Linked DNA regions of Homo sapiens. The protein of the gene in region 3 interacts with the protein of the main gene of each other region in a pairwise test. Each region holds a gene or a part of one and is shown on either strand. Other genes may lie near its edges.

The links. Proteins that work in one complex are often made in the same cells at the same time.
Region 1: the proteins of DCTN2 (region 3) and RINT1 interact in binary tests that used the Homo sapiens proteins (3 or more experiments, as listed by UniProt).
Region 2: the proteins of DCTN2 (region 3) and VPS33A interact in binary tests that used the Homo sapiens proteins (3 or more experiments, as listed by UniProt).
Region 4: the proteins of DCTN2 (region 3) and ABI2 interact in binary tests that used the Homo sapiens proteins (3 or more experiments, as listed by UniProt).

Annotation. Positions count from the first base shown.
Region 1 is NC_000007.14:105,565,689-105,568,587, reverse strand, and holds the end of RINT1 (RAD50-interacting protein 1), read right to left. Parts: intron 2,266-2,899; exon of another isoform or gene 1,470-2,265; coding exon 1,277-1,469; 3' UTR 1,135-1,276; coding exon of another isoform or gene 1,098-1,134; 3' UTR 911-1,097; downstream 1-910. Other genes in the region: EFCAB10 (EF-hand calcium-binding domain-containing protein 10), read left to right, coding at 1,098-1,121. UniProt on the Homo sapiens protein: Involved in regulation of membrane traffic between the Golgi and the endoplasmic reticulum (ER); the function is proposed to depend on its association in the NRZ complex which is believed to play a role in SNARE assembly at the ER.
Region 2 is NC_000012.12:122,231,870-122,235,494, forward strand, and holds part of VPS33A (vacuolar protein sorting-associated protein 33A), read right to left. Parts: intron 1,100-3,625; coding exon 931-1,099; intron 559-930; coding exon 377-558; 3' UTR 1-376.
Region 3 is NC_000012.12:57,540,274-57,544,688, forward strand, and holds part of DCTN2 (dynactin subunit 2), read right to left. Parts: intron 2,718-4,415; exon of another isoform or gene 2,703-2,717; coding exon of another isoform or gene 2,673-2,702; intron 1,100-2,672; coding exon of another isoform or gene 1,091-1,099; intron 1-1,090. UniProt on the Homo sapiens protein: Part of the dynactin complex that activates the molecular motor dynein for ultra-processive transport along microtubules. In the dynactin soulder domain, binds the ACTR1A filament and acts as a molecular ruler to determine the length.
Region 4 is NC_000002.12:203,334,894-203,338,803, reverse strand, and holds part of ABI2 (abl interactor 2), read right to left. Parts: intron 1-3,910. UniProt on the Homo sapiens protein: Regulator of actin cytoskeleton dynamics underlying cell motility and adhesion. Functions as a component of the WAVE complex, which activates actin nucleating machinery Arp2/3 to drive lamellipodia formation.

The sequences.
Region 1 (2,899 bases), on a different chromosome or scaffold from region 3:
AAACAGAAACATTTTGAGCTCAACACACTAGCTGGAAACTCTCTCTATAAAATACATACTAATAGAATCTATCTCAAAATATTTCCTCAAAATTATCACAAAGTAAATGTTTATCAGAAGCATAGGCTGCATGTTAGTCTGATAATTTTAGATTTTGAGATATTACAGGATTAAAAGTACTAACCCACTGCTAAGTCAGAGAAAAACCATTGGAATAAAATTTAATAGTTGTGGAAAGTTTCCAGGGAATCTAGCTCAATTTTTTAAAGAGTTTTACTCTGAGATTTTATTAGTCAAGTAACTATTATTGAATATACCCCAAGGACAAGGAAAAGTTACAAGAAAAAATAAACTTTTGAGACTTTTGTCTCATAAGTTACATAAATAATAAAAATGTTTAATTACATTCCCTACCACATGGGAATGTTTGAGTCAGAGTGCCATGGCCTGAAATGTTTCATCCAGAAAGAAAGGGTTGCCCACTGTCACACAGAATGAAACTAGGAAGCATTTAAAATAGAAGGGCATTTGTGAGAAATGAAGAACAATCCTATCTTATTCACCATCTCACAATGTGTTTTGTTTTGTTCTTTAGAGACAGGGTCTTGTTCGCTTGCCCAGGCTGCTGTGCCGTGTCACAATCAGAGCTCACTGTAGTCTTGACCTCCTGGGCTCAAGCTAGCCTCCCACCTCAGCCTCCCAAGTAGCTAGAACTACAGGCATGCATCAGGGTCTTGACATGTTGGCCAGGATGTTTTCGCACTCCTGCCTCAAGCAATCCTCCTACCTCAGCCTCCCAAAGTGCTGGGATTACAGGCATGAGACACTGTGCCCTGCCAGTTTCCTCATGGAAATACAGTTAATTCCCAAACTAGATACAGGTGCCTCAATTACAAATATGCATTCAAAGGGAGTTTTAAAAAAATTTATTGGCTATGTTTGATTATCCACAACAGAATTTCCCTTAATTAGCACAGGAAATTGAAAGTTGGTTATAATTTAATATCTCTGCTCGTCTTCAACAGACATACTCAGCATTTATACTTGTAAATAGAATTGAGTTTTCATTGTTTCGTTTTCTGTTTTTGTTTCCTTAGGAACAAGAGGATGAAGGAAATATGGTCAGCATTTTAATAACACCATAAATCCAAGATAATAAGTAATTCTATAAAGTTTTCCAGTTTCATTAATTCAGAATTTCATCATATAACTTGAAATCCAATTGGCTTCCTCTTTCTTAGAAACAAAAACCAAAGAAACCTTTTTCTGAAAGACATTATTTTCCAGTATTAGGCCAATTTGTCCTCAAATTAAGTAGAATCTCAACATCTTGTTGAGCCAGTTTGTAAATTCCAACTTCATTTAATGCTGCTGTGGCAGGAAGCTGCCCTGAAGCTGACTGCAGTACATCTTTCAGCAGTAGTGCAGAACCGACGTTCAAATTCAAAACAATACAGGCTTCTTTTATACTGTTTAGGGAAAACAAAGGAGGGAAATGAGATCTCCATTATCTGCATCAATTATATTACAATTTTGAGAATCCTAAACAGCTTCTCTGCACTGCTGGTCCACATGTTCTCTATAAAAATATTTATGGATTTATTATTTGGTTCTTTTAACATGGTAAGACTACACAGGTGCAGAGTTGCTATTTCTTTAGATTACTATAAGGTAATACGATCCCTATTTCAATATGTATCCGTTATTTCCCTAAATACAATACTTAATATTAACACTATATTAAATATAGCTATAACTTTAGGTAGATTAGAACATGGGAAAAGACAAAAATAAGAGATAAATGAAAGCAGCAGAAAGAACATTAAAATAAATTTTAAAAACAGTCCTATGAAACGTGTAAACATAAGCTTTCATTTTATAAGTCTAAAAGGAATGCTTTATAACCTCACAAAACCCAAACATAATTTAAATTTTACTTTTTTTTTTTGAGACATGGTCTTGCTCTGTCACCTAGGCTGGAGTGAAACTGCACGATCATAGCTCACTACAGCCTCAGCCTCTCAAGTAGCTAGGACTACAGGTCCACACCCCCACACCTGGCTTTTTTTTGTTTGTTCATTTTAATACTTTCTGTAGAGATGGAGTCTTGCTATGTTGCCCAGGCTGGTCTCAAACAGCTGGCCTCAAGCAATTCTCCCACCTCTGCCTCCCAAAGTACTGGGATTACAGATGTGGGCTACTATGCCTGGCCTATAAATTTTAGATCAACAAATTCTGAAACTATAATTATATTTAGAACCAAAATTAATGTCAAATGTTTAAGGAAACAAATTTCTTTCAGGCCTGGCCTATTAGGTATTAAACATATTTGTAATTTTTTTTTTTTTTTGAGACAGTCTTGGCTCACTGCAAGCTCCGCCTCCCGGGTTCACATCATTCTCCTGCCTCAGCCTCCCAAGCAGGTGGGACTACAGGTGCCCGCCACCAGGCCTGGCTAATTTTTTTTTTTTTGGTATTTTTAGTAGAGATGGGGGTATCACTATGTTAGCCAGGATGGTCTCGATCTCCTGACTTTGTGATCTGCCCAACTCAGCCTCCCGAAGTGTTGGGATTACAGGCGTGAGCCACCACGCCCGGCCCTGTAATTTCTTATATTTAGTGAATAGGGCACAACTGTACTTGTTTTCATTTTCTATTTATTCCTCCAGTAACTAAGCAACTAGAAGCATTAAACCAAATACTAGAAAACAAAACCCAACAGGTAATTTATATCTAGTTCTGAAACTTTTTGAGGTCATGGGTCACATCTATCATCTTGGTTTCCCCATTGTGCTGTAAGCATACAGTAGATAGACAATGTTTTAAAATTTCAACTGATCTTATCCCACCCAAACATCTCCAGAACCCTAAAGTTAAAAGGAGTTAGCCTCCTGTAACA
Region 2 (3,625 bases), about 65 Mb from region 3:
AACATGGTGAAACACCATGGCTACTAAAAATACAAAAATTAGCCGGGTGTGGTGGTGCATGCCTGTAGTCCCAGCTACTCAGGAGGCTGAGGCAGGAGAATTGCTTGAACCTAGGAGGTGGAGGTTGCAGTGAGGTGAGACCGTGCCACTGCACTCTAGTCTGGGTGACAGAGCAAGACTCCGTCTCAAAGGAAAAAAAAAAAGGGAATACAAAAGAGACGGAGAAAGCAGTAAACAGTAGTATAATTTAAGAAGCTGACCCCAGAATATATTCTGTATTCCCATGTTTCTTCTATGGGGTTTTACTTCCTTTCAGCAATTTCTTCAAAGAGGTAGTTTATTCTGCAGTACACTTGTTAAGTCTCCTCTGAACATCCTAGAAAGGTTTTTCCATCAGAGCCTCTATCCAACTGGTTCCATTCATTAGTTTAGTGGTGGCAATGACATATTCTGTACCTCCATCTTCCAACTGGGAGAGAAATCGCAGGGCAGCAATTTCAGCGAAGGTTACGCCCCCAAGGAAAAATATCAGAGTCACTCGGTTTTCTCCCGGTTGACCTAAAATTTAAACATTTCAGAATTAAAAACTATTTATTATTAATGCTTCTCTTCCCACCTCTTCAAACATTTTATCATTCATAAGAATAAACAAGTGCCTTCATCCAGACAGTTCATCTGAAACCTAAGAATACTGATTTTGATCTCAACATTTTTTTTTAACTTCTGAGATTCTCAACACAGAAGTTGAAAGCTGCTATCCCTCAGGGAATAATCCGATTCGAGTTCTTACTACATACATTAGCAACGAACAAAAGAGGTGTATTTAATTCTGACTCCTAAGTGCTTTACTATTTTACAAAGCAACTGTACAATACCTGAAAACCACACTAACAGTACATAATTATCTGTAGATGCTGGACTGGGACTTACGTTTCTTCTGCAGTCCTGTGGGCAGTGGCTGCCGCTCCTCAAAGTGGGGCCCTGGGAGGATGCGGAGGACCTCCTCGATGCTCCGCCAGCCAGGCCGGGAAAGCAGCTGGGCCAGCCGCACACTGAGCGGGGCATACCCACTGTACACATACGATATGTCCGTGGGGTTCTGTGAGATAATTAAAGAACAAAAACCCTATAGATACAGAGACTTAGAGCTACCTGACTGTGGCCTTTTGGGTAATCCAAAATTATTTGATTTGGATTTAAAGATATACAACCCCCACCCCTGCCATGCCTTGTTCTAATCCACCCTAGCTGGGCTCAATTTTTAGCAGCCAGAGCTTCAATTTTGACTGAAATCTTGAAAAGCCACTCAAAGCAGCTCTAGGTACAGAAGATGAAGAATTATTTGGTTTGGCATGAAACTTTTTTTTTTTTTTTGAGACAGAGTCTGGCTCTGTCACCCAGGCTGGAGTGCAGTGGCATAATTTCAGCTCACTGCAACCTCCGCCTCCCTAGTTCAAGCAATTCTCCTGCCTCAGGCTCCCAAAGAGCTGGGATTACAGGTGTGCACCACCACTCCTGGCTCATTGTTGTATTTTTAGTAGAGACAGGGTTTCACCATGTTGGCCAGGCTGGTCTTGAATTTCTGACCTCAGGTGATCCACCTGCCTCGGCCTCCCAAAGTGTTGGGATTACAGGCCTGAGCCACCGCGTCCAGCCAGCATGAAACATATTGGGGGGAACTTGGCACTCCCTAGCTGAGCAATGATGTGCAATAACCTTTGAACTTAGCAATTCTACTTTTAGGCATTAATCCTACAGAGGTGCTTGCAGAACAAAAGATAATAGACCAAAGTATAAACGTATTAACTGCAACACTGCATGTAACAGTAAAGACTGGAAACAACCTGAATTTCTATCAATAGCAATCTGTTAAATCATTAAATAAGGTATAGCCTCAAAACCACTATGTAGCAATTTAGAAAAATTAAAAAGAAGGGGAAGATCACAGAAGACCCTTCAAGATCCTTTGTTAAGTGGTGGGTGGGTCCAGAGTCAGAAAGGTCAGAACAGTGAAGACAGCTGAACTAATATGTACATGATAGACTCTAGACATTAAGGGTCTCTATTTTCCCACCGGGAAAAAATCATTTAATTTTGCTCCTGACAGAGGAGACTGTCTAGTTATGAGCTTTTGTTGCAAGAGGCGGCCTAATAAAGTTCCTTATGAAAAACCAAAAAAGACTGAAATTTAGAAACATTAGAATAAGTAATAAATGTAAAGCAAAGTGCACCCCACTTTGGAGACCAACAGTAGAGAATATGCACTCTTTATGTAAAAATGTATATGCACAGAATCTTTCTGGAAGGATAGATAAAAAACTGGCCACAGTGGCTGCCTCTGAGGGGAAACTGTGGAAGGAAACTCACTTGGCCCTGATGGCCCTGCTTTTGCATAGCTTTTTTTTTCCCTTTTTCTTTTTCTTTTTGAGATAGGGTCTCATTCTGTCGCCCATGCTGGAGTGCAGCAGTGCAATCTCAGCTCACTGTAGCCTCAACCTCCCAGGCTCAGCCTCCTGGGAGGCTCCCACCTCAGCCTTCTGAGTACAGTAGCTGGGCCTACAGATGCATGCTCCACCATGCCCTGATCACTTTTGTATTTTTTAGTAGAGACAGGGTTTCACCATGTTGGCCAGGCTGGTCTTGAACTCCTGACCTCAAGTGATCCTCCTGCCTTGGCCTCCCAAAGTGCTGGAATTACAGGTGTGAGCCACCGCGCCTGGCCATGGCTGGCTTGTTTATGAGTGCTGGACATCTCCACTGACTCCTCTAGACACTCTCCACCCTTCTCCGCAATGCTCTGTGCCCGGAGATGGACCTGTGCGTCCCACACCAACACACTCCAATGCCTTCTCTTTGGGTCTGACCAAGACAAAGCACCAGAGTGAACTGGAGAGTGGGCAGCAGTGTGAGGATGACGTTGTCACTGGCCAGCTTCCTCTGCTGGAGGTTGACCATACCCTCAGCCAGAGGCCCCTCACCCCTTACCTCACCAGATGGCCTCACCACAGCTCTTCTCTCCAGGTTCTAAGACAAGTTTCTAGAACACCCCCCTCTCCTTGTCCTTCAGGCCGTGGCTGGCAAGGGCTCCCCACTGCACTGCCTCTCCACTCTTCCCACATCTTTATTTATTTGAGACAGAGTCTTACTGTGTAGCCCAGCCTGGAGTGCAGTGGCACAAACATGGTTCACTGCAACCGCCTCCTGGGCTCAGTGATCCTCTAACCACAGCCCCTCGGACTAAAGGCTCATACTACCACTGGCCATTTTTTTTGTAGAGACAAGGTTTTGCCATGTTGCCCAGGCTGGTCTCGAACTCCTGGACTCAAGCGATCTGACCCTTCAGCCTCCCAATATACTGGGATTACAAGAATGAGCCACCGAGCCTGCCCCATAACTTTTTTTTTTTTTTTTTTGAGACAGAGTCTTGCTCTGTCGCCCAGGCTGGAGTGCAATGGCATGATCTGAGCTCACTACAACCTCCGCCTCCCAGGTTCAAGCAATTCTCCTGCCTCAGCCCCCCAAGTAGATGGGATTACAGGCACGCACCACAATGCTGGGCTAATTTTTGTATTTTTAGTAGAGATGGGGTTTCCCATGTTAGTCAGGCTGTTCTCAAACTCCTGAG
Region 3 (4,415 bases):
GCTCAATTTCAAACCATGCGGATTGGGCAGAATAGGGAGGACAGAAAATCAAATAAAAGGAAAAGTGGTATATTAGTTTGCAGATAGTATATACCACCTCCAGGTCTGTCCTATGGGTGGGTTGAAGGTTGATGAGATTTTAGGCATGATTCCTGCATAACCTGGAGTAGTACTAGTCACCTTGATTGGAAGATTTCAAGTGCCCTGGCCCCGGGTGCCAGCTTACCTAGTACGTGACTCCCAGTCTCTTTCACTAAGGGACTCCCAGACCCCCCAGGGCTGTTTGGCTAAGTGGCTGTGCCTCAGAGGGCAAGATCTGAGGTTCTAAATCAGACAGGGAAAGTGGCCACTGTTACTCTCTGAGCCTATTCAGGCTGTACGCCAACACTGCAGCCAGGGTACTTCAAAACCATGATGACAAGGAAGATGGACAGAGCTGTAGAGTAAAACTGTCCGGGATGGATCAATATATTGCTGACCATCCATCCATTTCAAAAGGAGGGGTGCAGAAACAGAAAGACTCACAAAAGCACAAATAATCCAAGTTATCTTACAATTGCATATAAACCTCCTTCTCATCCCATTTACATTTCTCTAAAGACCTAGCATAGGGGAATATTAAAATGAGTTTTTCCCAGAGATAATCCACATACAGCCAAGAACTGAGGACTGTGGCTGTCATCCCTTTTGTTTTCTATCCTTGTCTAGAATAGCTAAAAGTCATTCCATAAAAAAATCTTCATTTGATCTTAGTCTGAGGAGGAGAAAGGAAACTGCCTTCTAACTCCAGCCCCTAAATGCCTCATGTTCAAAAACATTTAAAGCCTCCATGCTTCTATCCCATCCTCCACTGGACAGTTTTACTCTGCAGACCTCACAAGGGGAAGAGACAATGATTCATGGATCATAGCTGTTTCTAACCCTTGATTAATGATCTTTAAACATAAGGCCAGCAGGCCCCTCAGTGACCCAGCCAGGGACTCACTGGAATTTAAAACGATTAGCTACAACAATAGCACAGTGGCAGAGCATTGCATGCGAGATGGCAGATGAAAAAAACATGCAGAGAAGAAGCATTGAATGGTCTTACTTGTGCAAACTAGTGTCCAGGCAAGGTGGTGAGGAGGGAGGATGGGGGAAGCATTAGGAAAAACTCAGGTAAGTTCAAGTGCGCCAACAGTCAATGAACACAATCAAGCATACTCCAGGATCTTCTAAACTGTAAGGAAGTACTGTTTCTCATCTCAGGAGTGTCCAGTAATATCTACCTTTTGGAGAAATGAAGCCTCTGCCAGGGCCCCATCAAACTATGGCTAGGTCATTTTTTCCCCTTTTACTGCGGGTAGTTATGCCATAAAGAGAGAAGCTAAATTGTTTCTAATGAGGTTTTTCTTAATTTACTTCCCTTATTCCAGCAGTTCAAAAGCCATGAGCAGAAAGCCTCACTGACCCAAGGCAGGCTGTGGGCCCAGGGGTTAGGGTCGGGGTGTGTGTGTGGGTGGAATTCTATTTGGGAATTAGTTTTCCAAACATTTTAAGAAAAATCTCCAAGCAAGCCTATTGCCCCAATTAACCTGGGAGTGTCTGAAGTGCAAAGAGATCTTCCCAGATTGAGGAGGAAAGGGCTACAGCCCGTGCACTTTCCTGGTCCATTCCTGTTTTAGAAGATTTTACTTCCTGCTAAAATTGTTTTAAAGGGATAGTAGAAAAATCAGGATTGGCCAGGCACAGTGGCTCATGCTTGTAATCCCAGCACTCTGGGAGGCCTAGGTGAGTGGATCACCTGAGGTCAGGGGTTTGAGACCAGCCTAGCCAACATGGTGAAACCCTGTCTCTACTAGAAATACAAAAAATTAGCCGGGTGTGGTGATGGACACCTGTAATTCCAGCTACTCAGGAGGCTGAGGCAGGAGAATCTCTTGAACTCGGGAGGTGGAGGTTACAGTGAGCTGAGATCACGCCATTGCACTCCAGCCTGGGCAAAAAGAGTGAAACTCCATCTTGAAAAAAAAAAAAATTCACGATCATCTGTAGCAAAATTTAAATCTTTTATGCTTTCCTCCCCCATCCTCCCCACTATGGGAATCGGAAAATGTTTATGTTTAAGTTAAATTAGCAATTTAAATCTTTAAGGGATGTTTGAGGACATTTTTCCTTTAGTAGCCCAATTTCTTCCACAGTGGAGGAATCACAGGAAGAAAGTTATGGAGCAGTGAGGGTCAACACAACTTGACTATTCCTTTAGACAGAAATCTGGAGACCCGGCTGGCATGGTAGCTCACGCCTGTAATCCCAGCACTTTGGGAGGCCAAGATGGATGGATCACTTGAGGCCAGGAGTTCGAGACCAACCTGGCCAACATGGTGAAACCCCATCTCTACTAAAAATACAGAAAATTAGCCAGGTGTGGTGGCACATGCCTGTAATTCCAGCTACTTGGGAGGCTGAGGCAGGAGAATCGCTTGAACCGGGGAGGCAAAGGTTGCAGTGAGACAAGATTGTGCCACTGCACTCCAGCCTGGGGGAAAGAGTGAGACTCTGTCTCAAAAACCAAAAAGAAATCTGGAGACCCCCTGAAAGGTTCCACAAGAGTCTATCCATATTGGTTGTCTCTAGGGAAGAGAACTGAGTGGTGGTAGGCAGAGGTGGGAGGCAGATTTTTCACTACTTACCCTTGAATCCTCTGTTCCCTGTGCATACATTACCTACTTTAAAAACTGATAAAATTAAAGTTGAAAATAAACTGAAGATTAAGGCGGAGAATGCTGTTGTCAGGGGTTAAGAAGGTGACTGAGGCTGGGCATGGTGGCTCACGTCTGTAATCCCAGCACTTTGGGAGGCCAAGACAGGCGGATCACGAGGTCAGGAGATCGAGACCATCCTGGCTAACACATGAAACCCCGTCTCTACTAAAAATACAAGAAAATTAGCCGGGTGTGGTGGTGGGCGCCTACAGTCTCAGCTACTCGGGAGGCTAAGGCAGGAGAATGGCGTGAACCCGGGAGGTGGAGCTCGCAGTGAGCCAAGATCACGCCACTGCACTCCAGCCTGGGCGACAGAGTGAGACTCCGTCTCAAAAAAAAAAGAAAAAAAAAGAAGGTGACTGAAAATCTCATGGTTCAGCCACAAGACAGGTCATGTGCACTGTCACTTGTACTAGGTCTTGGGCAGGTAGGCAGGAAACAGACAGGCTGCTGGTGAGATCCCAGGCCTCACGGACATGACATTTCTAGATTATCTAAGCATACAATTCACTGCTCCTCAAATTGCATATTTACGTCAGTATTAAAAGCAGTGGCAGAGCCATTACTCAGCTGACTTCCCAAAAGCTGCAAGCCCCATAGGGACATGCGGGGGCCAGAGACATTAGCTGACATCAGGAAACATCTTGGCTCTTCGGGCCCCTGAAGTGGCTGAAGGTCTGCCCACCCCATTCCTCCCTAGTGACAGAGAGTCACTTAGCTGAGCCTTAGGTGACAGAAACAATTCAGCTCTTCTTGTATTTGCCATTCAGCTCATATGCACTTCTATACTGGCATCCTGGGCAACATGCCACAGGAAATGAACACTCACAGTATCCTCTCCTCATCAGCCACCCCACTAGATGCTACTAAAATAGGCTGTTCAGGCTCTGGGGGAGAAACAGCCAATCAGAGCTGCACAGTCAGGTTCTTCCACACCTGGAATGGGTGTCATCTCCTTTTTATTAAGAGATATCCCAGTATCTTCAAAAGGGAATGACAATATGTATTTTTTTGTTTAGAAAGAGGATTACTGTGAAACTACCTGTTTGTATCACAGCGACAAAAGGACTGAGTTCTATTCATTATCTCACCATGAAGGGCAGAAGCCTAGGCCTAAGTTGAACAGTCTGAACTGTGGTAGTGCAGTAAAGTTCTCAGCATACAGCTGTCTCTTGGCAACTGTGGGAGACTGGTTCCAGGACCTCCCTTGATACCAAAATCTGCATATGTTCCCATCTTCTATATAAATTGGCATAGTAACTGCATATAACCTACCTACACCCTCCTGTATACTTTGAATCATCTCTAGATTACTTAAAATACCTAGTACAATGTAAATGCTATGTAAATAGTTGTTATATTGTATTTTTAAATTTTGTTTTTTTTTTTATTGTTGTACTGGTTTTTTTTTTTTTGAGATGGAGTCTTGCTCTGTCACCCAGGCTGGGGTGCAGTGGCGCAATCTCGGCTCACTGCAACCTCCACCTCCCAGGTTCAAGCAATTCTCCTGCCTCAGCCTCCACAGTAGCTGGGACTATAAGCGCTCGCCACCACGCCTTGCTAATTTTTATATTTTTTAGTAGAGACGGGGTCTCAAACTCCTGGCCTCAAATGATCCACCTGCCTCAGCCTCCCAAAGTGCTGGGATTACAGGCATGAATCACCACACTG
Region 4 (3,910 bases), on a different chromosome or scaffold from region 3:
GATGTAGTCACTCTCATCTTTTCTTGCTTTTGTTGCCTGTGCTTTTGGTGTCATATTTATAAAAACCATTGTCAAGACCAGAATCAAGGAGCTTTTTCCCCTATGTTTTCTTCTAGGAGTGTATCAGTCCATTCTTATGATCGTATGAAGGAATACCTGAGGCTGGGTAATTTATAAAGAAAAGAGGTTTAATCGGCTCTTGGTTCTGCAGGCTTTACACAAAGCACAGTGCTGGCACGTACTTCTGGTGAGGTGTAATCATGGCAGAAGTGGAGCCAGCATGTCACATGGTGGGGGGGCTCCCAGACTAATTTTAAACAACCAGTTCTCACGTGAACCAAGCAAGAACTCACTTATCACTAAAGGGATGGTGCTACATCATTCATGAGGGATCTGCCCCCATAATCCAATTATCTCCCACCAAGACCCACCTCCAACACTGGGAATCACATTTCAACAAGAGATTTGAAGGGAACAAACATCTGACCCATACCAAAGAGTTTTATAATTTCAGATCTTACATTTAAGTCTTTAATCCATTTCTAGCTAATTTGTATGTGTGATATAACAATCAAATTTCATTCTTTTGCATGTGGATATAGTTTTCCCAATACCATTTACTGAATTATCCTTTCCCCATTGTGTACCTGGTGCCTTTATCAAAGCTTAGTTGACTGCACAGATGTGGCTACATTTCCGGGCTCCATTCTGTTCCATTAGTCTACATGTCTTTTATGCCAGTAACACACTGTTTTGATTACTATAGCTTTTTTTGAGACAGAGTCTCGCTCTGTTGCCCAGGATGGAGTGCAGTGGCATGATCTCAGCTCACTGCAACCTCCACTTCCTGGGTTCAAGCGATTCTCCCAACTCAGCCTCCTGAGTAGCTGGGACTACAGGCGTGTGCCAGCATGCCCTATAATTTTTGTATTTTTAGTAGAGATGAGGTTTCTCCACGCTGGCCAGGCTGGTCTTGAACTCCTGACCTCAGGTGATCTGGCTACCTAGGCCTCCCAAACTGCTGGGATAACAAGCATGAACCACCATGCCAGGCCTATAGCTTTGTAATATAGTTTGAAATCAGGAAGTATGATACCTCCAACTTTGTTCTTATTCAAAACTGCTTTGGCTATTCAAAGTATTTTGTGGTTTCCTATGAATTTTAGGGTTTTTCTATTTTTGTGAAAAATACCATTGGAATATTGATAGAGATTGCATTAAATCTGTAGATGGCTTTGTGTAGTATGGACATGTTAACAATATCAAATCTACCAATTCATGAGCACGGGATATCTTCCCATTTATTTGCATGTTCTTCAATTACTTTCATAAATGTCTTATAGTTTTTAGTGTACAGACCTTTCACCTCCTTGATTACATTTATTCCTAAGTATTCTATTCTTTCTGCTGTTATAAATGGAAATGTTTTCTTAATTTTTCAGATCGTTTGTAGTTAATATGTAGAAACACAACAGATTTTTGTATGTTGATCTTGTCTCCTACAACTTTACTAAATTCGTTAATTAATTCTAACAGTCTTTTGGTGGAGTCTTTAGGGTTTTGTATACATAAGGAATCATGTCATTTGCAAACAGAGACAATTTAACTTCTTCCAATTTTGATGCCTTTTGTTTATTTTTCTTTCCTAACTGGCTGGCTAGGACTTCTAGTACTTTGCAGTACTTGATTAAATAGAACTAGTGACACTGGGCACCACTGTCTTATTCCTGATCTTAGAGGAAAAGGTTTCAACTTTTCATGGTTGAGTATGATGTTAGTTGTAGGCTTGTCATATATGGCCTTTGAGACATCACTAACAAGAGAATAGCTAAAATTTTAAAACCTGACAAAACCAAATGCTGACAAAGATGAAGAACAACTGGATCTTTGCTGGTGGGAACGCAAAACGGTACCATCGTTTTTGGAAAAGAGTTTGGCAATTTGTATAAAACTAAACACACATTTACCATACGGTAATAATCCCACTATTAGATATTTATTGTCAAGGCAAAGAGAAGGCAATGTGATAGACCTGCCCAACTGCTTGTTAGGTTCAGAAAGCCTACCATTTACATGGAGGGCAGAAGGAATAGTAGTAAAAGATACAGCCCTTGTGTAAAGCAATACTAAAACAAAAGGAGCCAGGTGACTACAACATAGATATGACACTCTGTTGCGGAGGAGCCAATGCCATGCTGCAACTAAAGTCTTACAGCCTGCAGCTACTACCTAAAAGGGTACAATAGAGAGCCTCATCTCATGGGAACTAGGAGGTGATGAGGCACTGTTATCACGTACAGCCTCCTCGGCAGATGAAGAGATTGAGAAAGGGCTTCACATAAGGTCCTCGCAAACTTCCATAATCTTATATTCCAAGAGGATCACAAAGTGCTCGGCCAAGATTCAGATCAGATGCAGTTCAAGCACTGGCCTATGCAGCCTATGTGGATACATCCACTGTTACCAGGGTACAACAGTTGATCTTTTCCCTTAAATTTACCCAAAAGAGTGAAGACTTAGGTTGCACCAACACCTGTATACAAATGTTTACAGCCATATTCACCACTGCCTAAAACTAGAAACAATCCAGAAATCCATCAGTTGGTGAATGGATGAACAAATTATGATTCTTTCATACTCTAGAATATTACTCAGTAATAAGAAGGAACAAAGTACTGACAAAACACAATAACACTGATGATTTTCAAATGTATTAGGACTTCTAGTACCAAGAAGTCAAACACAAAAGGCTATATACTACATAATGCCCCTTATATGGCATTCTGGAAAAGGCAAAAACTAGAGGGACAGAAAATATATCAGTGTTTACCAAAGGCTAGTAGTGGAGGGACAGGACTGACTACAGAGGGTACAAGGAAAATTTTACATTGTGGTGGTTACATGACTATGTAAGTTTATTGTAATTCATAAACCTTTACACCTAAAAAGGGTGACTTGTACCATATATGTATTAAAACTCAATAAACCTGACTTTAAAAATCAAATGAGAAAAAATTCATGTTGTAAATGATTCAAAACAAAGCTGTTACCTCATCCAAATTTTCTACAAAGTATATTACTTAAGAAGAAAAAAGCAAAACTATGTTCCTTGCATGAATTATGCAAATATGAAAAGTACTGCAAAACTTTACAGAACATAAATGTCACCAAAAAATCAAATAGGAAAAAACTTGCAAGGTAAATTTACATGTAATTATATCCTACTTATAAAATAATTCAAGGCCAGGCATGGCGGCTGACAGGTGTAATCCCAGCACTTTGGGAAGCCAAGGCAGGAGAATTGCTTGAGCCCAGGTGTTCCAAGACCAGCCGGAGCAACATAGTGAGATCCCATTTCTAACAACAACAACAAAAAAAATTAGCTGGGCATGGTGGCACAAGCCTGTAGTCCCAGCTACTTTGGGAGCTGAAGTGTGAAGACTGTTTGAGCTTGGGAGTGCAAGCTGCAGTGACCCATAATCGTGCTACTACACTCCAGCCTGAGTGACAGAGTGAGACCCTGTCTCAAAAAATAAAATAAAATAAAGTAATAAAATAAAAATAATTCAGTGCATAGGCTCTTGCATATTCAAGTCTGTATTTCTTACATTCAGCAACTATTTAATGAGTGGCTAGTATATGGAGAACATCCTACGGCTAATGGGAAAATATAGAAATTTTTAAGAAATGACTCCATCTTCTAGGAGCTTCGTATCTGGAAGGAAACACAAAGTAAATGAAAAATCCAAAATAGAATGTGTTGCCCTACATGCTACCTCATGAATCCAATCTATTAACCAATCCCATAAAAATTCAACCATAAGCTATCAAAAGTCTACAACTAGGCCAGGCACGGTGGCTTACGCTGTAATCCCAGCACTTTGGGAGGCCGAGGCGGGCGGATCACCTA